Homo sapiens: one gene and its partner. The protein of the gene in region 1 interacts with the protein of each later gene in a pairwise test. Each region holds a gene or a part of one and is shown on either strand. Other genes may lie near its edges.

The links.
Region 2: the proteins of FAM98A (region 1) and RTRAF interact in binary tests that used the Homo sapiens proteins (3 or more experiments, as listed by UniProt).

What each region holds. Positions count from the first base shown.
Region 1 is NC_000002.12:33,587,126-33,599,326, reverse strand, and holds the start of FAM98A (protein FAM98A), read left to right. Parts: upstream 1-27; 5' UTR 28-105; coding exon 106-158; intron 159-3,689; coding exon 3,690-3,838; intron 3,839-7,112; coding exon 7,113-7,247; intron 7,248-10,807; coding exon 10,808-10,992; intron 10,993-12,006; coding exon 12,007-12,087; intron 12,088-12,201. UniProt on the Homo sapiens protein: Positively stimulates PRMT1-induced protein arginine methylation. Involved in skeletal homeostasis. Positively regulates lysosome peripheral distribution and ruffled border formation in osteoclasts.
Region 2 is NC_000014.9:51,980,112-51,993,268, reverse strand, and holds the start of RTRAF (RNA transcription, translation and transport factor protein), read right to left. Parts: upstream 3,724-13,157; 5' UTR 3,630-3,723; coding exon 3,569-3,629; intron 2,751-3,568; exon of another isoform or gene 2,685-2,750; intron 1,953-2,684; coding exon 1,828-1,952; intron 1-1,827. UniProt on the Homo sapiens protein: RNA-binding protein involved in modulation of mRNA transcription by Polymerase II. Component of the tRNA-splicing ligase complex and is required for tRNA ligation.

The DNA of each region.
Region 1 (12,201 bases):
CAGCTGTGGATTTGGAAGTTCCGGGGAAGTCGCGCATGCGCGAGTGTACGCGTTGCCGGCGAAGAGGGGAGCCTGACGACTCGGAAATTTGAATACCACAGTAGCATGGAGTGTGACCTCATGGAGACTGACATCTTGGAGTCGTTGGAAGATCTAGGGTAAGATTGTCAGGGCACGGGTCTCCCAAGCCCCACGCTGCCGGCCCCCTGGGAACACCTCCTGCGCCCCAGTCTGAGACACCTGCCTCTCCACGCCGCACCCCGTGGCTCCTGGCTGTCGCTTCCCTTTGGCCCCGGCACCCCCAATGCCACGTCCACTGTCTGCACTGCTAGCTCGGGGTCCTCCAATCCCAACACCCCTAGGCCTGCCCAGTGCTCCCTGCAGGCGAGCTACCCGCAGCGTTTGTCAGTCATGCGTGTCATTGTCTGGGCTCTGATTTTCGCCACCCCCACTCCCCGAGCTTCTCTCCTCGCTTCATCCTCCTGCCCTACCCCTTAACCCCTCAACTCTAAAGGTTGCCAAAGTTGATTCTGCTTTCCTACTTGTTCTCCAAATTTCCTACTCCCATCTTGAGCCCCTCCTCCTACCCCACCCCACTTCTCTCAAAATTTCTCCTTTGCCCAGTCATCTCTGCATGCACCCAGGCTTCGCTAAGCCACTTGTATGGGCGCTGCATCTGTTCCGCTGGCCAGCTCGCTTGTGCATCTAACCTATCACCACGTCCCTGGGAACCACCAGCAGTTTGCTTTGACTCTGTGATACTCTGCCTCGTTGAGCCCCATTAGACCAGGGTCGTCTTCACCCACGAAGAACCTGCGTATTTGTTTTGCATTGTGTCTCTCCTTCTCCTGATATTTATTCAACCATAATTCATCAGTATCTAGAAGCTGGAAATAGGGTTTGTTATCTCACTGGGTCACCCAGATCAGTGTACTCTATTAAACTTGAGAACGTGGACCCTCTTGGGCTAAATGTGGTTCCAGAAACAAATTGTATGGTTAGATACTTACCTACAGGTACGGTATCAAAACAAAGTACAGATTTAGCTAGCTGTATTTCTAAGTAACAAGTTCTTTATCAAAATTTTCTCTTAGGTTTTTCCATGACAAGGAAACCTTTGAGAGAAACCTTTCTTTAGGAAAAAACACCTTGAGGATTCCCAAAGTCTGCCTATTTGAATAATTTACTACCCTAGTAGAAATTTTTAGGAACGAAGTAGTCTTGCTTATCATCTGTCTTTGTCACAGTGAAATACTATTGTTCTTTTCTTGGAAACTTGCTCTGAATTTTTATAAATATTCCAGACTTTAGGGGGCTTCTTTCTTTCATTAGGGCATATGTTAAAGTCATTCAGCAAAATAGTCTCTTTAGTTGACATCTCAGACTGAATCGCTTGTTCACACATGAAACCATTCATTCATTAGGACTTTTTTAGGAACAGTTTCTTTGTGGCAGTGTTAGGCCCTTAGAGTACAAGGTGAGGTGGAAGAGGGGTTCACAGGATACTGGGAAAATATGCTGTGAGGAGCCCTGAGGAGGGTCCCTTTACTGGGAAAGGAAATGAAATCCTAGAAGCTTCTTTCTGGAATAAATGACACTATAGTACTGTAGTGGAATGAGTGGAATGAAAGGAAGGGGGTAGACCTTATTAAATGTAGTCTTTCTGCATGGATAGTGGTCACTTAAGAATTGGCCACGGATGCTGTTTCTTCCCATTATTGTCTTTTTTTTTCCCCCTCCTTTTTTTAACTTTTTATTCTTTTGGGTACTGTACAAGTAATTGTTACTGTAGTAATTGTAATCACATAACTACTTGACATAGAGTGTAATGTAAACCATGGATTTTCTGAAAACTGTTATAAATTTTAACCTTAACTACTTAGTTTGGTGGCATTCAAATATTAAAAGTCAGCCTTAATTAACTGAAATGTACTTTTAAAGGATTAACTGAGAAATATTAGAATTAAATGACTACCTTTTCTATTTATTTATTTATTAAGAGATGAGGTCTTGCTCTGGTGACCAGGCTGGTCTCGAACTCCTAGCCTCAAGCGATCCTCCCACTTCAGGCTCCGGAGTAGCTGGGACTACAGGTGTATGCCACTGATCCTGGCAAATAGTCATCTTTTATCTCTTACCTGGCACACAGTAGGAATTCAGTAACTACTTGTTGAATAAACTAATGAAGTCTAAATGTGAAACTCAAGGAGAAACTTCTAGGCCTAGTCTTTTGATTTCAGTGTCTAATAATACATAGTTTATAAATCTAGATGCCAGACTACATGTGATCTCATTTTTTTATGTATGATTTGTTTTCATTTTGTTGCATATACTGTATAAACCTATAATCATATTTTAAAGGGTTTGAGAACTGTCATTTCTCTAACATACCTGTAGTTCTCAACATTATATTATCTTTTTTTTTTTTTTTTTTTGATACGGAGTCTTGCTCTGTCGCCCAGGCTGGAGTGCAGTAGTGCGATCTCGGCTAACTGCAAGCTCTGCCTCCTGGATTCAAGCCATTCTCCTGCCTCAGCCTCCTGAGTAGCTGAGACTACAGGCGCCCTCCACCATGCCTGGTTAATTTTTTTGTATTTTTATTAGAGATGGGGTTTCATCGTGTTAGCCAGGATCGTCTTGGTCTCCTGACCTCGTGATCCACCTGCCTCGGCCTCCCAAAGTGCTGGGATTACAGGCGTGAGCCACCACGCCTGGCCTAAACATTATATTATCTTAAGCATATTTATTGTATCATCTTAAGTAAGCATTATTATCAATATTTAAGAGAATGTAAAGCAATCTGAATAATATGTATTTAAGATTACTTGGAGTGACAGAAATCTTATATTTTAGAATATTGGTGATTGGAGTTCATTATGACTGTCATCTTTTATGAATGTTTGAACATTTTTAAATTTTTTAAAATTATATTGGAATCACTTACAAAGGATTAGGATTCAGATGCGCCAGTTCATTAACTGCCAATATTTATTAACCTAACCTGACGTTTCTTTGGTACTAGAATGTCTTACTAGTCTTAACTGGCATTAAATTTATAAAAATGATATAAATGGTTAACTGGAAAGTTTTTACTTTTAAAGGAAGTCATTAAAAACCTAACTAAGCCTGGGCAACATAGTAAGACCCCTGGCTATTTTATAAAAAATAAAAAAAAAGCCAGGTTTGGTGGCTTGTGCCTTCACTGCACTTCAGCCTATGTGACAGTGCAAGACCTCATCTCAAAATAAAAACATAATCTAGTTGTTTTCTGGAAAATTTTTAGAAAAGATAACCTAAGTTTTATTTCTGAAATAAGTTACAGTATAATTAGCTATTACTTGTTAATTTGCTTTTAATACTCAATTCAATTACAGTAAGAAAATAAATCTTTTTACAATGGAAGCTTTTAGTAAATGTACAGAAGTTGACATAATTTAGTAGTATATGCAATTCTGTTAGATATTCACCTACATTTTGAAAGGTTGAAATGCAGCTACCATTTAGCTGCTTTTTGTAATGGTTCAGTATAGTTCTAAATTATGTTTATATTTGTCCATTTAAAATAAAGATAAGTACTAACTTATCTTTATTAAATTATTGCTTATATAAATAAGACATAGATATGTTTTATCTGTAATATATTAGGTATGATTGTATTTTCTTCTGAAATGTAATTTCTTGCTCACCAGTTACAAGGGCCCATTGTTGGAAGATGGAGCGCTCTCTCAGGCAGTCTCTGCTGGAGCCAGTTCCCCCGAGTTTACCAAACTCTGTGCTTGGCTGGTGTCTGAATTAAGAGTGCTCTGTAAACTAGAGGAAAACGTGCAAGCAACTAACAGTAAGTAAACATTCACTTTTAGGTACAAAGTATAAAAATAACATTGAGGTATTGTCAACTGAACATTATCAATACTAAAGCTGAAAGTTGCAAGTTTTTGTAAATGTAAAAAATTTGTAAAGAAGCCAAGATTTTTTTTCCGTCCGTTGTTTTTAGAGGTGATTCAGAAGTTGAAATACCAGAATAAAGTCATGTAACTTAAAAATTCGTGGATGCTGAAAAGACCCTATTACTGGGATACAGAGAAATGGAGACCACAAGCATAGAATGTATGAACTTCCTATATTTTGTAAGATGTTAAATGTAAGATCCTAGATTGATGGCTAGAACTAGATACTGGGATATTTTTCTTTTAGGATTACCAGATTCTAGAAGCATCTATAGCATGTAGAGTAAATGCATTATTATTCTGTTATGCTTGGGGAGAAAGAGAACACTTTGTTAAGACATTTTGTTTATCATAAGAATGCATCGTTAGATACATCACAGTGAGATCCAGGACAATCAAATTTATGGATCTGAGAGCTGTTCTGCATTTACCAATTTTGTTTCCACTGTTGCACTAGTTTGTCGACACTGCAAAAGAGGCAAAAGCTTGGAACCTACCACTCTACCATCTGGTTCCTTCCTGCTGTAGGTAAACCTATAATAGGAGACCAAGGAAAATACTCACCTGTTAACCCACCCTTATGGAGAGCTATACATATAATTCCTTTTTTTCCACATAATCACGTTTTGAAGAGCTCACCTTCTTGCATGCTAGTGTGTGTGTGTGTGTGTGTATATATATATGTGTATATATATGTGTGTATATATATATGTGTATATATATGTGTGTATATATATATGTGTATATATATGTGTGTATATATATATGTGTGTATGTATGTGTGTGTGTGTGTGTGTGTGTGTATATATATATATATAATTTTTTTTTTTTTTTTTTTTTTTTTAACTTTATGTTCCGGGATACATGTGTAGAACATGCAGGTTTGTTACATAGGGATACGTGTGCCATGGTGGTTTGCTACACCTATTGACCTGTCCTCTGAGTTCCCTCTCCTCACCCTCTAACCCGCAACAGGCCCTGGTGTGTGTTGTTCCCCTCCCTGTGTCCATGTGTTCTCATTTTTTAACTCCCACTTAGTGGTGAGAACATGTGGTGTTTTTTTTCTGTTCCTGTGTTAGTTTGTGGAGGATGATGGCTTGCATGCTGGTATATTTAATGTGTACGTGTTAGTTGCATTCAGTTCTAATTATTAAGGAGAGTATAGTGTAACAGTAATGATAGCAACAGCTTACATTTATTGTGTACTCACTATGTTCTAAACACTTTATATGTGTTAACTCATTAAACCTCAGGGCAACCCTATGAGGCAGGTTTTATTACTGTTATACCTTTAACAAGAAAGCCCAGAGAATTTAAATACATTGCCTGAGGTCATACAACCTGTAGGGGTGAAGCCTGGTTTCAACCCCAGAACAGTAGTCAAGTTCTGAGCCAGTGTGCTTGAACACTGTGCTATACTGCCTCTTGACCAGATGTTTGAGAGACTGTAGGAACCTTTGAAAACACCAGTACTAGATGATACCTCTATTTAACCTGGAGCCCCTTTTTCTCAAATGAAACATGATACAGAAGCTAACATGTAAAACAGGTTAGAAGGTATTCTAACAAAGTAGAGACGAGGTACCTTTAGCCCAGCTCTTTCCTCCTCATCCTCCCAGCTGCCTCTAAAAGAGCTCTGTGGAACTCAAGGGCTCACAGATCACAGTTTGCAAAATATTCATAATGTAGGCTTCCTGTATTACAGATTAGAAAATGGACTCAGGTGATCAAGTGACTCTCTCAGAGTTTGTTAATTTCTTCCCCTTTGTGATAGTGAATAGAGAACAATCAAAATAATGAAGAAAGAGCTTTGTTTTTCCTTTGGTTCACCCAGTGAACTCTATACCTTTTTTTATATGCTGTGGGAATACAAGACTGTAAGTCATGTTTGCTGTCTTCAAATTTTTTCTAATTGAGAATGTTAGGCACAAATTAAACAACTGGAGATAAGTACAGTCCTTTTGTTTGTTTGTTTTTAGACAAGATCTCACTCTGTCACCCAGGCTGAAGTGCAGTGGCGCGATCTGGGCTCACTGCAACCTCTGCCTCCCAGGTTCAAGCAATTCTCCAGGTCAGCCTCCTTAGTAGCTGGGACTACAGGCATGTGCCACGACAACTGGCTGATTTTTGTTATTTTTCTTAGAGACGGGGTTTTGCCACGTTACTCAGGCTGGTCTCGAACTCCTGAACTCAAACCATCCACTCGTCTCGGCCTTCCAAAGTGCTGGAATTACAGGCATGAGCCACCGTGCCCGGCCAAGTACAGTACTTAAATGCTGAACCACTTTGTGGTTCACAGAGAGAGGAAATCAGCAAGTACGAGGGTGAAGTTTCAGCCAAGTACAAGGAAGGTTTCATCAAGGAGCAAGGCCACTGGGCTTTGATGGATGGGTGGGATTTGCTAGAGGGGAAGAGAGTAGAGGACATATCTGTCACAGGGAATAACTTAAATGAAGGCACAGAGTGGAAATAAGACTGGCTATTCATGGGACAGTGAGGAGACTGGCCTGGCACACACAGGAAATATTTGTGGAGGGAATGTAGGTGATTATAGCTGAATATGCTAGGAAGAACAAACCTAAGCAGCTATGAAGAATCTTTAAAAGCAGACAGAAAAAAATCAGATTGGATGAGGGAGAAATTAGGGAACCATTAAAGACTCCCAAATAAGAGAATGACCTAATGAACACTGAGAAAGAAAATTTTAGATTGGGAGCAGTGGCTCATGCCTGTAGTAATCCCAGCACTTGAAGACGCCAAGGTGGGAAGATAACTTGAGGCCAGGAGTTTGACACTAACCTAGACAACATACTGAGACCTAGTCTCTACAAAAGAATTTTCTAAATATTAGCCAGGCATGGTAGCATACACCTGTAGGCCCAGCTATTCCGGAGACTTAAACAGGAGGATCCTTCAAGCCCAGGGGTTTGAGGTTACAGTAAGCCCTGATCACACCACTGCACTCCAGCCTAGGCCTCAGAGACCTTATCTCAAAAAAGAAAAAAAAAGAAGAAACTTTGCAGTGGTGTAAGAAAGGATAAATTAGAAGGGGAAAAAACTCAAGTTATGAAAATCCTATTAACAATTTCAATTATATATAATAATTGTTATGCTAATGGAAAAATAATCACTATCATTAAATAAGATTATTTTAATTCTTAAAAGGTCCGAGTGAAGCTGAAGAATTCCAGCTTGAGGTGAGTGGGCTACTAGGGGAGATGAACTGCCCGTATCTTTCACTGACATCTGGGGATGTGACCAAGCGCCTTCTCATTCAGAAGAACTGCCTCCTCTTGCTCAGTAAGTTCATGGCTACTAGAATATAGCTATTACTTTCTGTTTATGTTTTCCATGACTAATAAACTGACCATGGTTTTTTGTTTGTTTATTTCATTATGAATGTAATTCAAAATTCATTTTAAAATAAAACTTTCTTAAATTTCCAATTTAGGAGCTGAGGGTAGACGTGTGCACTGGTAGCATTATTGTTTTTGTAACTGATACTCTTTCAATATTTCAGCCTCAGTGGTACTCAGGCCGTTGTGCTTCTCCTAATGTGATCACTGGTAGTTTTGGAGTGTTGCTCAAGTGTGTGATCATTAAACTTACATTTTAGACTAGAAGCACATTTTTAAGTATATTAGGAAGATAGTATGGAAATAATGGAGATTTTGTTTAGAAATTCATTTCTTTGAGGAGAGTAAGCATTTATAATAGTAGATACAGTTAATGGTTAATGTAATTTAAAGTATTTTGTCTTGTTGCTATTTCTTTGTGGTTGGGTAATTGGGGATTTTGGTTTTGTTTGTAAATATTCTGGAATAATACTTGCATTGTTCTGGTACTTATTCTGAGAAATGAGTTTTTATGAAAAGTTCTTTCCTTCCATGTTTTTTACATACTTACTACTGTTTTGTCTCTTCACACTGAAAAACAGTAAGTAGATTCAAAAATTTTATTGCCTTCTATAAACTTTCCAATAAATACAACCTATAGTCTTAACTCAGAATTTATGTAGCATTCTGAAGCACATTTACATTAAGCTTTGGTTAACTGGCTATTATAGTTCTCATTATGACAGACAATTCAGAGGATTTTTAAAATCTTTGTTTTTACAACTCTATTATGGTTTCTGAAAAAATTATACAACTTCAGTTTTTAAGGTTCTGTTAAAAAAAAAAAAAGTGTTCATAGCCATTATACTTAGGCACTAAGTTATTCCAGAATCACTTTTGTAACTTCCCCTTTGTCTGTCAAATGATTGTTATTGTGGGAATGTGCACGTAAGGTTAGGTGTTGCTTTAGATACTGATATTGCTGCTGGTAGTTCTTACATATTCATTTAATATTCTTCATATTGTACAATTTCTGTAACTGATTCAATAGCAGTATACTCAGCTGATTCTTCCTTTATAGCATTGCTTATCCTTTACCAATATTTGGCACTTAGAATATGTTATCTACATAGGAAGATAATAGCTGTGTGGAATGCTTACTAATGACCCTGAATAGCTAATTCTTCCAAAGAGCTCAGAGTTTGGCCTTTTTAGCACTGATACTTATACAAACCACTTGAATGTAAGTATAAAATGCCTTTCACACTTTTCTGTTTCTTAAGCAGACTTCAGTGAACATTATTTTGGACTCAGGGTCATAATTCTAGACTTTATTTTAATCTGCTATCATCACCTCAAATGCTTTTCAAGAATATACCACTATTTGCTCTTCAATTAAATGACTAAATCATCTAGAGGTCACTCACTTTTTATATTCTTCATACATACATATATACACACTGTTTCCCTCTTTATCTTTGCTTCTGCCGATTCTCCCTTTCTAAAATATTCTCCCCAGTTTGTAACCTCTCTTTCATTCTAGCATTTACCTACATGTACTCATTTTTGACTTGGTCTATGTAAATATTTCTCATCTTTTGAAGTATCAGTTGTCACATCTGGATGCTATAATTTTACTTTTCCAGCACCCTTACCTCACTAACTTGAATCTTTTATCACATTGTATTTTAGGGGGGAAAACAAACCAGCCTCATTAGAATTGTTGGAAAAATAGAATAGCCTTTGAGTGAGAGGCTGAAAAGCTCTCATGTATCAGATTAAGGACTCTGTTTGGCTCTTCATTGGCCTTTTATGGTTCTCAGAGTGTTGCCCTTACGTAAATTAAGTAAGATGTCTGAGTTCCTAATAGATGAAGAACTATTCATCTTTTATTTTTGCATATACTCTTTATTCCTAACTAGATTATCGGAAGAGGTCATCTTTTTGATGTTTTAAAAAATGTTATCTTCAGTGCCTTTCCCAGTGCTTTGAACATACTGATTACGATTAAAGTTTTTTCATGATAATTATATTGGTAACCTAATTTTGTGAATACCTGAACTATGTTATCCCAAATTTACAGAACCAATATATTAAATCATATAGTATATGATTTTCTAGAACAAGAGTTGGCAAACTTTTTCTAAAAGGGCCAGATAGTAAATATTTTTGGCTTTGTGGCCCTAAGTTCTCTGTCACAACTACATACCTTTGCTGTTACAGCATGAAAGCAGCCATAGACAATATATAAATGAGTGAGTGTGGCAGTGTCCTAATGAAACCTTATGTACAAAAACAGTGGTTGTTGTCTTAACAGTGGGGTTTTACTGTTTTGACGTTTTAACTCATAAATACAGTTTGCTGTATGGAACATGTTAAGATTTTACAGTGTCAAATCCATTTAGAATGACCTTTCCAGAAACTTAGCTGTATTTATTGTTTTAGAACAGGAGTTGGCAGCCTTTCAGAAATGATTTGCCAAAATTATGGCCTCTGTCCTTCTAGCATTACATTTTGGGTATAGGAAATTTGATACACAAGTTGACTTTTTTCTACTTCTAATAGGACCTGAGGGCCTTGAAAATATCTTTTCCCAAAACTGGTTTTGTTATATTGTCAGAAGAATCTCACTTTGTCACATAACCAGAAATCCTAAGATTCAAATGATTCTTAATCATCTTTTATAAAAATTGAAATGTCCTTGGGAATGTTAAAGGAATGAGATTGAATATTTATACCTTCAACTGAATTACCTGAAACAGATTGCAGCCCCCATTATACCAGGCTGAAATCAGCACACAAGGGGATGATACTGACACAAAGGGAACCATGCCAAAAAGTGCTTTGAAGGTTTTATGGTTGTTTTGAAGGGAATGGGGTGAGGAAAGTAGGGGGAAGGGAGTCCTGAGAAGAATATAGATGAAAGAGGGCTCTCTTTGATTAGCCAGAGGGCAACATAAGATTTGGAGACCATGGGAAAGGAGCTCTGGGGTGCCTTCCTGCTTCTCCTGTGAGTTAAGCTTTGACTTCTTATAAATGTTGTTTCACACCTCTTCTGGACAGGCTCCTAATTAATGGGAGACAAGAGAGCAAGGTAGTTGTGTCATTGATGCTCACAAGTAGTGAGAAGTTAAAAAAAAAAAATTAATTGTCATTAAAAATTGGTCACCTGCCTTCTTTTGCAAAATTTTTAACAGATGCCAACCCCTGTTCTGGAGGTTCCTTAATACCAGAATTCAAGATTCCAAATTTTTAGATGTTACTTACCTCGATCCTTCGGTTTCAAAGAGAATCGCTTATTTTAAAATTAACATTTAAACATTATATATCGCTTAAATAACTGAATTACATAACCAGTTTATTTCTTATTTCATTTGCAGGTAAAAGTAGTTTTTCTTTCTTGTTTTTATCCATTCTTGCAGCTTTAACAGTTACATATCAATAGGTCTATATAGTTGTGACTCCAGACTTATGACTATAACTATAGCTGTATCTCATTTTGAAATCTTATTTTGTTTACTTCAGCATACCTCATCTCAGAACTAGAAGCTGCCAGAATGCTCTGTGTGAATGCTCCTCCAAAAAAAGCTCAAGAAGGAGGCGGTAGTGAGGTCTTTCAAGAGTTGAAAGGCATATGTATTGCTCTAGGAATGTCCAAACCTCCAGCCAATATAACTATGTTCCAATTCTTCAGCGGGATTGAAAAAAAAGTAAGACCTTTAGTACCAAATTGTAGTGTATTAAAGGCATAGTCCTACATTTGTTTGAAATGAAGCAATTAATTTAATTTCTCTTAATGGGAACCTAATGTGCATATATTATTAAGTAATTGTTACGAAATGAGTTTTGGGTTTTAAATCCTAGATGCCTTAAAGATAAATTAGTATTTTAGTATTTTCCTAAAAACATGTTAGCATGTTTCTTTTTCAAAAAGGAAACTTTACACTGGTTTGTAAGCTAAAGTAAGCTAGATATAATGTAAAAAGGATTAAGATTTCAGTCCTTTTAAAAATTATTTTATCATTGAACTTTGATACAGTCAATTTAAGTTCTTTATCACTAAATGTTACCACCCTCCTCCCCATTGACTGGACAGAAAGGATATTAATATTTTTGTTTTTTAATCCAGTCACTTCAAACCTCATGCTTCAATTGACAAAATAGATTTGTTGACTGCTAACATAATCTAGTATGTGAAAAGAAATTAGAATTATTTTTATACCACACATTATCAGTTAAGATTTTCTATATAATTAATTAGGAACAAGCAATTTTAACAAAAATGAGTAGAAGAGAACGGTATTTGTTAAAGCACAGTTATTCCCTATACGCTTATCTGCTGGACTCTTAAGAATTGGTACATTTGCATTGTGGGGTAGACCAGCACCATGATGCACAAATTTGGCTGAACTCTACAGGGGAGCAGCAGTGTATCCATAGTCCATATTTTCCTGTGTGTTCATTCATCCATTCAGCAAATGTTCATTGAGTGCCTACTGTTGTCAGGCACTGTTCTAGGTGCAATGAAGGACTTCTGTAGGCGTGAGGAGTGGGACCAGTGAGTGTCTTTATCTTGTGGGTCTTTTACATTTGCATTTCAAAACATCCTCCACCTTTGCCTCTGTCAGGAATCTTCTTTTGATGGCAAGATATGATGGGAATTGGGAAGATGAGGATGTTTTACTTTTAGAGTTTTTATTCATTTATTTATGTTTTTGTGTCAGTTAAAGGAAACATTAGCAAAAGTTCCACCTAATCATGTGGGAAAGCCTTTACTGAAGAAGCCAATGGGACCAGCCCACTGGGTGAGTAGTAATCATCTTGAGTAAACTTTGTAAAGAACTATAGAGTTTATGATTTTCATGTCAACACTTACATTTTGTGCTTTTTAAATTATGTTTTCTTATACATAGTTTTCT
Region 2 (13,157 bases), on another chromosome or scaffold:
GTAATTTAAATAAATGTCAGAAGCTGTATATTCAAATAAATGTTGCATATAATAGTATTATATGTAACATTAATTATATGTAATATAAGATTATAATAAAATCAACTTGAAGGATAATAACTGTTTAGGTTCTGATATGTTGAAATTATTCTTACTGTCATTCCAGGTGTTTCACATCAGAAATACGTGTGTGTATATGTACATATATACACACACATACATACATATTTCTTTTTTTTGAGACAGAGTCTTGTTCTGTTGCCCAGGCTGGAGTGCAATGGCACAATCTTGGCTCACTGCAACCTCCGCCTCCTGAGTTCAAATGATTCTCCTGGCTCAGCCCCCTGGGCAGCTGAGATTACACACATGCGCCACCACACCTGGCTAATTTTGTGTTTTTAGTAGAGACGGGGTTTCGCCACGTTGGCCCGGCTGGTCTCGAACCCCTGACCTCAGGTGATCCACCCATCTTGGCTTCCCAAACTGCTTGGATTATAGGCATGAGCCACCGTGCCCAGCCTAGACAATTTTTTATATTCTCCAGATACCTTTCTACATGCAGAATTCTGTACTGTCTTGTACACATGAATAGACCATAAAATGTAATATAAACAAACATAAAATCCTAAAAATATATTTCAAAGTTTTAAGAAGTCCACTGAAAATTTTAAAAATATTTTCTAAGAGCAAAGGAAAAGAATACAGTAGTATTAATAGTAGTAGTATAGAGGCATTGGCAGTAATAAGCTTATCACACTTGCTATGCGCCAGGGACTTCTGTGAACAATTACTCATTAAAAACAAAGCCACACTTATGAGATAGGTATCATTGTTACCCTCACTTATTGATGAAAAAATTGAGACACGGAAAGGTTAATAACAATGATGTAATTTATACAATCCCTAATTTATAAAATCACTGATTCTAGGGAGAAAGTGCCTAATCACACTGCTCTCGCAAATGAAAAACTTAGCCTTTTTCAAGAAAAATATCTCACTCATCAAATATAACTGATGAAAATGTTTAATGTAAGAAATGACACTAAAAGCATTTTTATTCTAATCTGAGAATTCTTTTTTATGCAAAAGTGTTACTAAAACTAAATCAATGGGAAAATGATTCAAGGCACAAAAATATGATATACCAGAGATCATTTAAGGACTATTTCCCTAGCATACAACAAGGGATATCTGTTTACATTAAATATAAGCATAAACACGACAGTCTTGGTTTTCAAGCATCTCAATAATGTCTTTTTTTGAGACAAGGTGTCACTCTGTCGCCCAGGCTGGAGAACCTCAGCCTCCCAATTAGCTGACACTACAGACACAGGCCAGCACACCCAGATAACTTTCTATTTTCTTGTAGAGACAGGGTTTCATCATGTTGCCCAGGCTGCTGTCAGAACTCCTGAGCTCAAATGATCTGCCACCTCAGCCTCCCAAAGTGCTGGCATTATAGGTGTTAGCCATCACACCTAGCCAATGTCTTCTTTTAATATAAGAAATAGTACTGTGTTTAACAAAAATTCTGATTTGGGCCATAAAGGGAAAGCGAAATATTTACATCATTATTTATTTAAGAAACTTCATGTTTCTAGAGAAAACTATTTCTACCTAATACTGAAAGCTTGGTAGGAAGACATAAAATAATTTGCTCTAAAAGCAAAAGACACATCTAAGAAAAAAGCAAAATCCCTGAAATCCAGCTTTCCTAACACTGATCATTATCATTTTTTTCTTAAAAGAAGAAAGTAATTTTAAGCTCATCTTCATGATTTTTCAGACAAACTCTCTGTATTTTTACTTTACTTCCTAATTCATTACCTTTTCAAAGAACTTGGGCCAGTCGCTGCTGTGGATGTTTCTTAAATTCCCTCTGTCTTCAATCTTGTAGTGCCTGATTTTCTGGTCTTCAAGCCAAACGATGAAGTTTCTAAATTCTGTTTCATCTGCAATAAAAAATATCACATAAATAACTAGAAGCACTACATAAAATACCTCCTTCTCAGGTATATGTTCAGATATATGTTCTTGTGGAATTTTCTTAACTTCAAAATACTAAATTAATTGAACCAAAAGAGGGAGTTGAAAGTACAGATTCTGGAGTTGAAAGTACAGATTAACAATGATCTGTTCAAATCCTGGGTCCAGATACTTACTGGTTGTGTGAACTTGGGATAATCACCCACATTTTCTGTGCCTCAGACTCTTCAGCTACAAAATGAGGGTGCTAATAGAACTTACCTCATAGAGTTATGAAGATTAAAAGAAGTTGTTTTATTTAAGAAGTTTCTTAAATAAAATAAATACGGATAAAAACAGTGCCTGGCACATAGTTTTGCTATTTAAGTGTTACATATTAATATTCCAGTTCCTTTGCGGACAGAAAGGGGAAGGAGGGCAAGGTTAAATTTATAGCAAAGTAATAAAGTAAAATATACAACAAAATAATAAGTAAAAGAAATTAAATGACAAAAAAGACACTGTGACAACTGTTGTCATGGAATGTTAACTGCACATTAAGTGCATAATTGTTTCGTTTAATCCTCCCCATACCTCTTTTGAGGTAGGTAATATCCCATTTTACAGATAAGAACATTGAGACTCAAAGATTCCAATCCAGAACAAGGCTCTATTGTCACTGATACTTTTTTGTTAAAGTAGAAAAACAATAGATTATAATTTGATATGCTTCTACAGGCGATCAACAAAACACTGTCATCCTGCTTAGAAATTATTTTCAATTTGTGAGTCAAATTCAAGCTTCCATTATAAGGTCTTGAGAATTACACAGTGGTCTGAGTATCACAAGTTATACTTGATCACTTTCAAACTTACCAGTCTATCACAGGCCACAACTATACAAAGGAAACGAGTAGTGGTGGGTAGCAGTTTAGTTACAGTGAGTAGCAACGTTATTACTTTTTAAAATTCTAATGCTGTAAAATCCCAAATACCTTTGTATTCACAATTCAACCTTCCCACTCATCTGCTATTAACTTTTTTGCAACACCACATAACACAACTAGCCCGTTACTACACGCGCTTACCCTCCCACTGTGATCGGTCCTGATTTCATTGTGTACTGTCTCAAACTGCTCAGTGGGTTCTGATTGCTTCCACCCCTCGTCCCTTTAGCTCCTGGCAGGCAGTGAACTAGTCTTCAAGTTACTCAGCACCTTCCTCAGAATCCAGCACCGCGCTGGCCCATAATTAGCAGGTGCTCAAGGTATCGCCTAATTACCCAGGGAACCATGGAGTTGAATAGTGAGTGAGAAAGACGAATGCTCTCCCTTTTATGTACAGAGAAGGTAGTTACGTGATGCTTGGAGTTAAGCAAGTGCAGAAAGTAACATGCCGAGACAGGAGTAGGTGAGAGGGCTTTAAAGGCGGGAAGGGGCGGCGAAGAGCCGAGGTACGTGGCGACCCAGAGGAGAGGGGCCCGGAGGCTGCCGGCGGAAACCAGGCCGCCGAGGGTCCCGACGGGGAGGTGGGGTGCGGGCACTGAGGCTGGGACCTCCGCCCAGGTCAGGGACACGCGGCCGGGCTGAGGCCGCCGCCTCACCTTTGCAGTTGAAGCCGGCGGGGTTGTGGTAGTCGAGAGCCGTCAACTTGCGTCGGAACATGGTCCCCGCTTCTCGCTCTGGTCCCCCGGGCCTCGGCCGGGAGAGAAGAAGCGAGGTGGAGCGGGAGGCGCAGGCACCGGCGACGCGGCGAGAGGGCGGGCAGGCGCTGAGTCGCTCCGAAATGACGGCGGCCTTCGCCAATCGTGGCTTAAAAGCGGTGGCCGCCGGCAAATGCCCACCAATCGCGGCTCCGGCTGGGGAGGCGGGGCCACGTCGGCGCACGTCGACGCTCAAATAAACTTTATTGTCAGCTTCCTGGTTGTACAATAGGCAGAAAACCACCGGGAAGCCACTTTCCTTTCTTTCTTGCTATAGCATGCAGAGAATAGTATATGTAGGCTTTTGGTATTCGCTGTACCTCCCGTTGGATTACAGAATTACTGTTTAGTGTTTTGAGTGCATTCATTCATTTTATTACTCCTCCTACATAACAGGTGCTCTTCTAACACTGGTAATACAAAGACTACAAAGCAAGGTCCCTATAGTAAGATGCTTTCAGACTAATTGGGAGTGATCCACAGGTAAACATACAATTGTTAATACGATGCGATCGTTCCAGATATCCTCAGCCAGAGTGAAATCTGAAGCCGAGATCGTCCCTCACTCCCCCTCACCCTCGGTCACAGCATCCAGTAGGTCACCAATTCCTGCCATTCTGTCTCTCCTAACTCTCAAATCCCTCACCTCCTTTCGGACCCCACTGATACAGCCACAGATCAGATCCTCATCACTTTTGCTTACTCTAATTATCTGATTGATTTCTTAGGGCCAGTCCTGCGTTCTCCAAACCATTCCTCCATACAGCGATGAGAGAGATTTTTCTAAAGCAAAAACCTGTACATAACTTTCTCTGCTTATGTTTTAGTGGTTCCTGGTTACCCCCTAGAAATAATCAAAACTCCTTATTGTATTTAAGATCTTTCCTGATCCAGTCTCTACTTGCTTTTCAGACAGTGGAGAGAGAGCAGTGAACAAGACAGACCAGGCCCCTATTTTCATGGAGTTTAAAAGGCTAATGAGGGAAACAATAAACAGATAAGTATAAACTAAGGCTTGAAGATGGTGAGGCATTCACCATGCAGTCAAAAGGGTAACCTAGTTTGAGGGAAGAGGATGTATAAAGGCAAGAAATGAGCAACAGCATGGCCCAGAGGGACTAGAGCTTATAGGGGCTGGAGGGTGAGAGGGAATGACAGCTGATAAGACTATAGACAAAGGCAGGGCTCTGATAAGGAAAAGCCTCTCATGGCAAGCTAAGGGGAGCTATTGAAATTCTTGGGGGTAAGCCAACTATGTACGTTTCATTTCATTTCATTAATTAAGATTTTAATTAAACACTTAGGATCTGAGGAGCATACAAATGAGTAAACTACAGTCTCTATTTTCAGGAAGTTTAAGTATAATGACAAATATAGATGTGTAAATAAATACTTATAATCTGGAGTTAGAAAGAGTAAGTGAATTACAAGAAATATAAAATGTACTACAAAGAAGTACAGGCCAGGTGCAGAAGCTCATGCCTGTAGTCCCAGCACTTTGGGAGGCTGAGGTGGGAGGATAGTTCAAGCCCAGGAGTTTGAGACCAGCCTAGGCAACATAGTGAGACTTTGTCTCTATTAAAACTAAAAAAAAAAAAAAAAGAAGAAAGAAAAATTAGCCTGGCATGCTCGTGTGTGCCTGTGGACCCAGCTACTCAGGAGGCTGAGGTGGGAGGATCACTTGAGCCTGCAAGGTTGAGGCTGCAGTGAGCCATGATCACACCAACCTGTGCAACATGTAAGACCCCATCTCAAAAATAATAATAATAAAAAGAAGTACAGAGGCTAGAATACAGCTTTAGTTTTAAGGGGGCACTGTAAGATAATCTGTATTTTTCAATTAAGGTGCTTATAGAGTGAATCAAGAAAATCAGTTCAAGAGTGTCTCATTTCCAACAAAATTTGATCAAAGATATGGCTATAATCTCATATTGTAGTGCATGCTAGTTGTATAATTAATGAAATACTAACCAAAAAATGAAAAAATGAACCAATCATGGAAGGGAAAATAATAAATACTTACATATAAATAATAAATTAAAAAGGGGGAAAAATACAATTGCAGACCATGAATTTCTTTAAAAAAATAAGGAAAAACATCTCTTACCATTTGTTTTCTGAAATTGACCTTTCAAGGCAAAAAATGAAGTTGTTTGCTCCTGGCCTAGTCTTTCCACTTCAGGGTCCCCATTGTCAGCAACTTAAGACTGTCCCTAGTCATCAGCCCCGGCCACCACCAGGAGTGGGGAGGTTGGAGGAAGATTCAGATGATGCAGAATGCTAAAGTGTCAGGGGATACTTGAGCAGGGGATAAAGCAAACTTTGGGAAAGAAGTATAAAATAAATATTAATCCATTTTTTATGTTAAAACCCAGTTATCTTTTTTTTTCTCTGAATTTGAAGGAGTTCTTTGACCTATTCTGAATGGAGTGTCCAACAGTAAGTGAATCTTACATAATTCCATTTCTGAAGACCAAGCCCTCTGTATACTTCAAGAAAAGGAAACCAACTTTTGTGTGTGTGTGTTTTCATAAGTACCCAGTGTTTAGCTCCCACTTATAAGTGAGAACCTGTGGTATTTGGTTGTCTGTTCCTGTGTTAATTTGCTTAGGATAACGGCCTCCAGCTGCATCCATATTGCTGCAAATTTGGACATAATATTTGTTCTTTTTATGGCTGCATAGTATTCCATGGGGTATATGTACCATATTTTCTTTATCCAGTCAGCCTCTGATGGGCATCTAGGTTGATTCCACGTCTTTGCTATTGTGAACAGTGCTGCAATGAACATGAGAATGCATGTGTCTTTTTGGTGGAAGGATCTGGAAATCAACTTTTATTATCAAATGACCTGAACTCCAATCTAATGGTTGATCATAGGTTTGACAGGCTATTAATTCATCTGTTGAATTGTTCAGTAAAGTGTTTAGAGTGTCAATTACATGCCAGGCAATCTTGTAGGCATTTTGGAGTCATCTGAGAGCTTAAACACAACAACCCTGACCTCAGGGAGCTTATCATTGGGCAAGGGAAGACAAACAGTACAATAATAAATAAATACATTATTTACTATTCAGAAGGTTCTAAGTACTATAGGAAAATTATAACAAGGTAAGGGGGGCAACAAATAGCGGTGGGGATATAATGGGTGTTGCAGTTTTAGACAAGATGGTCAGGTTGGGCCTCATTGAGACAGTGAAGTGTAAGGAAAGCCTAGAAGGAGGTAAGGAAGTTAGCCACACAAATATCTGGGGAAAGAGATTTCTAGATGGAGTACTCAAAAAAAAAAAAACCAAGATAAGAATGGTTTTTATATTTTTAAATGGTTGAAAAATCAAAAGAATAATAATATTTTATGACATGTGAAAGCTATATAAAATTCAAATTTCAGTGTACATAAATAAAGTTGTATTGGAACACAGCCATGCCCATTTGCTAACTGGCTGCTTTGGTGCTACAAGGGCAGAGTTGAATAAATGCAACATAGACCACATGACTCACAAAACCTAAAATATTTGCAAGGGCATATATGGTTGCAGAAATGTAGAGGTGGCCATTTCAACGGTATTGCCAGGGCAACACATTATCAAGAAAGGCAACCAGTCAGAGGTAAAAGTTGCTCTTTGAAGGACAGTTTCACAACTTGTAACAACTTTTAAAGTCTTGGCAGTTTTACTAGAAGCCTTTGTTCAAATTAGTCTTCCGAAAACAGTGAACAGAACAAGTTGGTAATAACCAGGAATAGCCACAAAAGTCTCTACAGTGCACAGAAAAACAGGTTTTATATTCTAATGAATGTTATCAATTGAACACCCCATGAAATCAGAATTTTTGGAACAAGTTGTATAATGCAGAAAGGTCTCTCTCCCTGGGGGAGCCTCCCGATGAGCAAACATCTCCTTTATCTCTTTCTGAGACTCTTTATGTTAAATATGAAAACTTGCTGCTTTTTAAGGTCAAGCTCTGGAATTTCATGATTTAGCATTAAAAGCAAAATGGCAGGGCAGTAGAACTCAATTTTATTGGTAGAAAACGAATAGGAATGAATAGGAATTTATGTAGTCATGCAAACAGCATAAAGCATTCACCTTCCACATCTAATACTGCAGAGGAAACACTTGCCGAACAGTGAAAACAACACAGAGGACAATACAGCCAAGAAGCACAGACAGGCCATTCCCAAAAATGTCTGGTAGGGGGCTAGATGCAACTTTCCTGAGATGTGATCCAATAAAATCTATTTTATACTTGAGCCAGATTTGGTTGGGGTTTTGTAACTTACAACTGAATAGTTCTAACATGAGGACAGATCCCAGAGAGAAAGGAAAGAAAGATCCACGGACTTGGTGGGACTAAACATAGGATGGGAAGGAGGTGGATGGCTTAAAGGAGGTTTCTAGAAGGTCACCTATCAGAGATGTGATAAGCAGTGAATTCTTGCATAGAAACAGGAGCACCGGTAGAAGGAAACCAGTCTGAGGAAGCTGAAGAATTAAGTTCTGCACCTGTTGAAATCGAAGTCCTGTAGATGTAGCCCATAATCACTACTGAAATGTCAGGAATGAATGTGAGTGAGTGGATGAGATGTCCATTGAGGAGCCATCAGCATAAAGTTGTAGATGGAAACTGTTACAGTAAGGTCCCTGAGGAGACGGGGAAAGAAAAGAGGACTGAAGACTTCATCCTAGGAAAACCCAGTATTCATATTTAAGGAGTAGGAGGAAGAGTCATGGAATATGGGAAAAGTGGTTGGAAGGACTAAGAGAACAAGGAATATACAGCGTCCTAAAACGTGGAGAGGAAGGGGTTTAGGGAGGCAGGGTTGGGGGCAGAGTAACAGGGATCAACATTTGGGTGATAGGATTATGTGGATTCTTCCCCCAAAAGTGACAGAAAAGCCACCTCTGAATGCTTGAAAGCCGGTAATGAATAAGGCAGAGGTTATGGTGTCATATGATATTGACCAGCATACAGTCAAATTTAGATCACCTACTTTACAGATCTCCCATGCATATTCCTGTTCTCTCTTCCCTTTCCCTAGTACCTCAGTGACCCCCACCAGGCAGAGCTGCTAACTGAGATGCCTGCAAAGGCCTGACCTTTCCCTTTGTTTCAAATTCTTGAGAACTAGTCTTTCTCCAAGATGCTAGGAATTAGGGGCTGCTACTGCAGGGACCTTAGAGGGCTGGGAAATCTCATTCCTCAGAAATCCTTTGACCAACTTGTAGAAGGTATTGTCTTGACAGCTGAGTGCCAAACAGCACGCTTTACTTTAGGTTCAGACTTGCCAGGGTTCCAAAACCACAGCACTGAGTTCAGCCTGCCAGCTGAAGAAGGGGCAGGGGATGGTGAACTCCTACAGATTTGCCCTGATCCTGCCATGGCTCTCAGACCTGTGAACATTTTAAGTAAAAGTCTCTTTTGATGAAGAATACAAGATATTCTATCTTCTACTTCAAAGTCTGACACAACTATTGTGTGTTCATGACATACGTATTAGGCCACTCACACATTGCTATAAAAATAGTTGAGATTGGGTAATTTATAAAAAAAAGAAGGTTTAATTAGCTCACGGTTCTGCATGTACAGGAAGCATGGTGCTGGCATCTGCTAGGCTTCTGGAGAGGCCTCAGGAAACTTACAATCATGGCAGAAGGGGAAGTGGGAGCAGGCGTGTCCCATGGCCAGAACAGGAGCAAGAAAGAGAGAGAGTGGGGAGGTGGAACACACTTAAATGACCTGATCTCGTGAGAACTCACTCCACTGTCATGAGGACGGTACCAAGGAGATAGTGCTAAAGCATCCATGAGAAATTTGCCCTTATGATTCAGTGGCCTCCTATCAGACCCCACCTCCAACACTGAGGATTACAATTCAACGTGAAACTTGGGCGGGGACAACATCCAAACTATATCAACATCTAAAGGCCTAGGTAGCTCACAATGAGTCAGTTAAGGAGGATGTCCGACCTGGGTAAAGAGCGAGGGTGGAGAACATTCATTCATTCATTCAGCATGTGCTATGTACCATGGTGGACACTCAGGATATAATGATGAAGACAGACATGATCCTCCCCTTCATGGAGGTTACAGCCCAACAGGGAGGCAGGAAACAGCAAGGCAAAGGAGATGGAGGTAAACAGAAAGGGACCTACGTTAGATAGGGTGGTCAGAGGAGGCCTCATGGAGGAGGTTACATCTAAGCCAGCTATCAAATATGAGCTATTACCGGATTTCCCAATGGGGAAAGGGCAGAGCATGAACAAAAGCATGAGCACAAAGGCCCCTTGTCAGCAAGGGTTTGCTTCTGTGAAACTGAAGGAAGATCAGGGAGGTAGGAGGGTGGTGAGCCGGGGGTTGGGTGTACTGTTGTTAAGTGAGGAGGGAGGCCATGGTGTGGAGTATGGACTTTATTCCATGTGCATCAGAAAGCCACTGAAGGTTTTAAGCAGGAGTGACAAGCTGTGGCTTGGGTTGTAAGATCTTTCTGGGTACTGTGTGGAGAATACAAGGGAGCTGGTGGAGAGTGAGAAGCTGGGAGACCAGTTTAGGAAGCCATCGCAGTGGTGAGGTGAGTGGGAACGGTGAATGTCAGAAGCTGTTGCATTGTCTGGTGTAGCATAATGGATTGGGGGGATTATCCTTTGCAAATTACACTTTACTCTCTTTTCAGCCATTATTGTGGGTGATTGAGACTCATCCGTATGAACTATTCACCTTCGTACCTCCCGTTTACAACTCAGCATTGCTGGAAGAGCTGAACAGCCGCATGGATCATTTTTCAATTATAGAAAAACAAATTCTAAGCCTGAGAGAAAAAGTGCATGAGAAAGAAAGGGAGGAATATAGCTGCTAGCAGACAAGACATATACTTCCCAGCTCCACCACTGTGACTCTTTTAATTCAAAGAGATTTTTCAATTTTCCAGTGAGATTCTGGCCTCAATTCCTGTCCTAGGCTCAGAAAAAGCACAATAGTTTCTTTATACATCTTTTCTTTTAAAAAGCTCCCTGGAAAATATTGTAAATATGCTACTATATTGAGGTTTGATAATAAAGGGAAAAATTTTGCTCTTTATACCCATTTCTACTTGAACACCTTGTTTCTCTTTATTTCTCATGTTTGCTGGGTCATTCCTACTTTAGCGTTGGCGAGTAAGAGCAGCAGCCTCCTGGGAATTTAGTGCTCGGTATCTAATATTCAGTGCTGGGTGTGGGTGTTAGCAAATGCTAGGGAAAAGAAATCTCTGTCATCCTTCCCTTTCCAGCTGTAATCACGTAGAGTTTCCCTAGTGGCATTGGTGGAACCTGAGACCTGACCTCATTGGTCCCACTAATGACTAGGTAGGAATAAATAATTTAGATTGTTAATGAGGGTTTGAGCTATTTCCCCAATGAGCCCAACTTTCCGGCAGCCTCAGACTTTAGAGCTCAGTGGAGTATGTTTCTAAAGCTGCTGCCATTTTCACACCCTTTCCTCACAGTTAGGAAATAGTTGGAATTTGGTTTTTAAAAAAAGTATGGATCTCCTGGAGATGGGCAGTCTTTGATAGCACCCTGGGAAGTAAAGTCTGTCCTAGGCTGTTCATTCATTCCAGGCATTGCTAAGGGAAGTAATACAAAACAGACCACACATGGGAACCTAATTTCTGATTTGAACTTCTTTTCCACACAATTTATAAGTTAAATCACCGTCAATCTGTGATGAATCCATTATGATCTCCTTTTTCAGGAGTTGTGCCTAAATTTGGGGGTACTTCTGACATGCCAAGGAATGAGTGGTAGTTAGCAGATCACTTCCACGTCCTTGTAGACCCACATTGGTGTCCCCTGGGCCATTCTCATCTCTATCCACTCTTTGGTTCTTGGTGCACAGGTTTACAGGTTCTCTGTGTCAGGGCTGTACTGCTCTTAGTCATACAGGAAACTCCCACTGCTCCCACACTATCCAAGTGACAAGAGCTCCATCGCCTCAGGAGCCCGGGGGACACTGATCCTCTGCCACAGTGTGGCCTGTGAAGCTGGGCAGCTCAGCCTCATCTGCTTACCTAAAGGATGGCAAACATGGACCCACCTCTCTGCACTGCAGCATGCTTTCAACACATGAACTTCTGGAGGATGTTCAAACCACAGCAACTCCTTTTGGGGATCTCATAGACCAATGGTTCTCAGTGCTGGTCCCTTGAGTGGCAGCAACAGCATCACCTGAAACTTGTTAGAATTGCACATTCTCCAGCCCCAGCCCAGGCTTACTGAATCTGAAGCCATAGGGTTGGGCCAGCAATCTGTGTTTTAACAAGCCCTACAGGTGACTCTGATGTGCTCAAGATTGAGAACAGCTGTCGCAGAGAACTTTGTGGGTTTCATTGTGCTGACTTCTACACACGAATTCCTAACTTGGGCCCATTCCTGGGCCACTGCTCTGTCCTTCCTCCCTTCAGGACCATTCATTTGTTTCTGCTCAACCCCTGAGACCTTAGCAACAGCCCAGGCAGACCCCTGCTTCTGCAGCCTGCACAGCAGGATCCCCCGAGAGGCAGCCTTCATTTGGAACAATTTCTTTCCCACTCCTGTTTCCCAACCTTTCGGGCATTGAGTTGACTAAATTCGGAGTAAGAAATAGGCCAAATCCTCTGTTCCACAAAAACTAATTACCTTCTCTGTCCTCCTCGGTCCTACTCTGTGAGGTGGGGGAGTTCTTTTCCTTCCTTTCTCAAGCACATTCCTCTGTGTTGTCCATGGCCCTCTCCACTGGGCAGGTGGCCCCGAGACGTTGGGACAAGCTCATGTCCCAAGATAGTTTTCTGGCTCCTCTGACAATCTCTGGCCCTAGAGAGAGAAGCATAGGAACATTGAAGCTGGCCAGCTTTCATCAGCCACTGATGCTGCAGCATAAGCATCACAGTTTTCCCTTGGGGGTGTGTACCTCTACTCTTGATTTATGCTCTTTCCTTTGGTTATTTTAGCTTTTCCAGGGATTTTCCATGCCTTCCTCTTTCTCCCTGCCTAAACATGAGTATAAACCCACTTGTTCAATCCCCACCTCTCAGAGAAGCTCCAATTTTGCATTTCTTGGGCTAGCCCCATTCTCTACCTCACAGCCAACATGGCTAAAAGTCAATATTTCACCCTCCACAATAAACCCCCTTGTTCTCTTGCATTTCCCTTGATCCTTTCCCAGCCTAGTGAGTTCCCATCACCCTTTGAATCTCAGTTTTGACTTCAACCATGTGCAGGTTTCCCTGACTTTTCCCCACATCCAACCAAGCCTGGGCACTGTCCACTGTGCACCTTCAGTAGCTTTTTAATGTGGGCCTCTGCAGAGCTCCTCCCCAGCTGGGGCAGGATCCCAAGGGTCTGTCTCTCATTCACTTTGCACCTTCCAGCCTAACATAGATGCTCATGTCAAACCAGTATCGTAGCAGCCTAGAAAGATCATCCCTTTTCCTAGTGGACTACCTTATAGCTGCAGAGCTGCCATGTCCAAACATA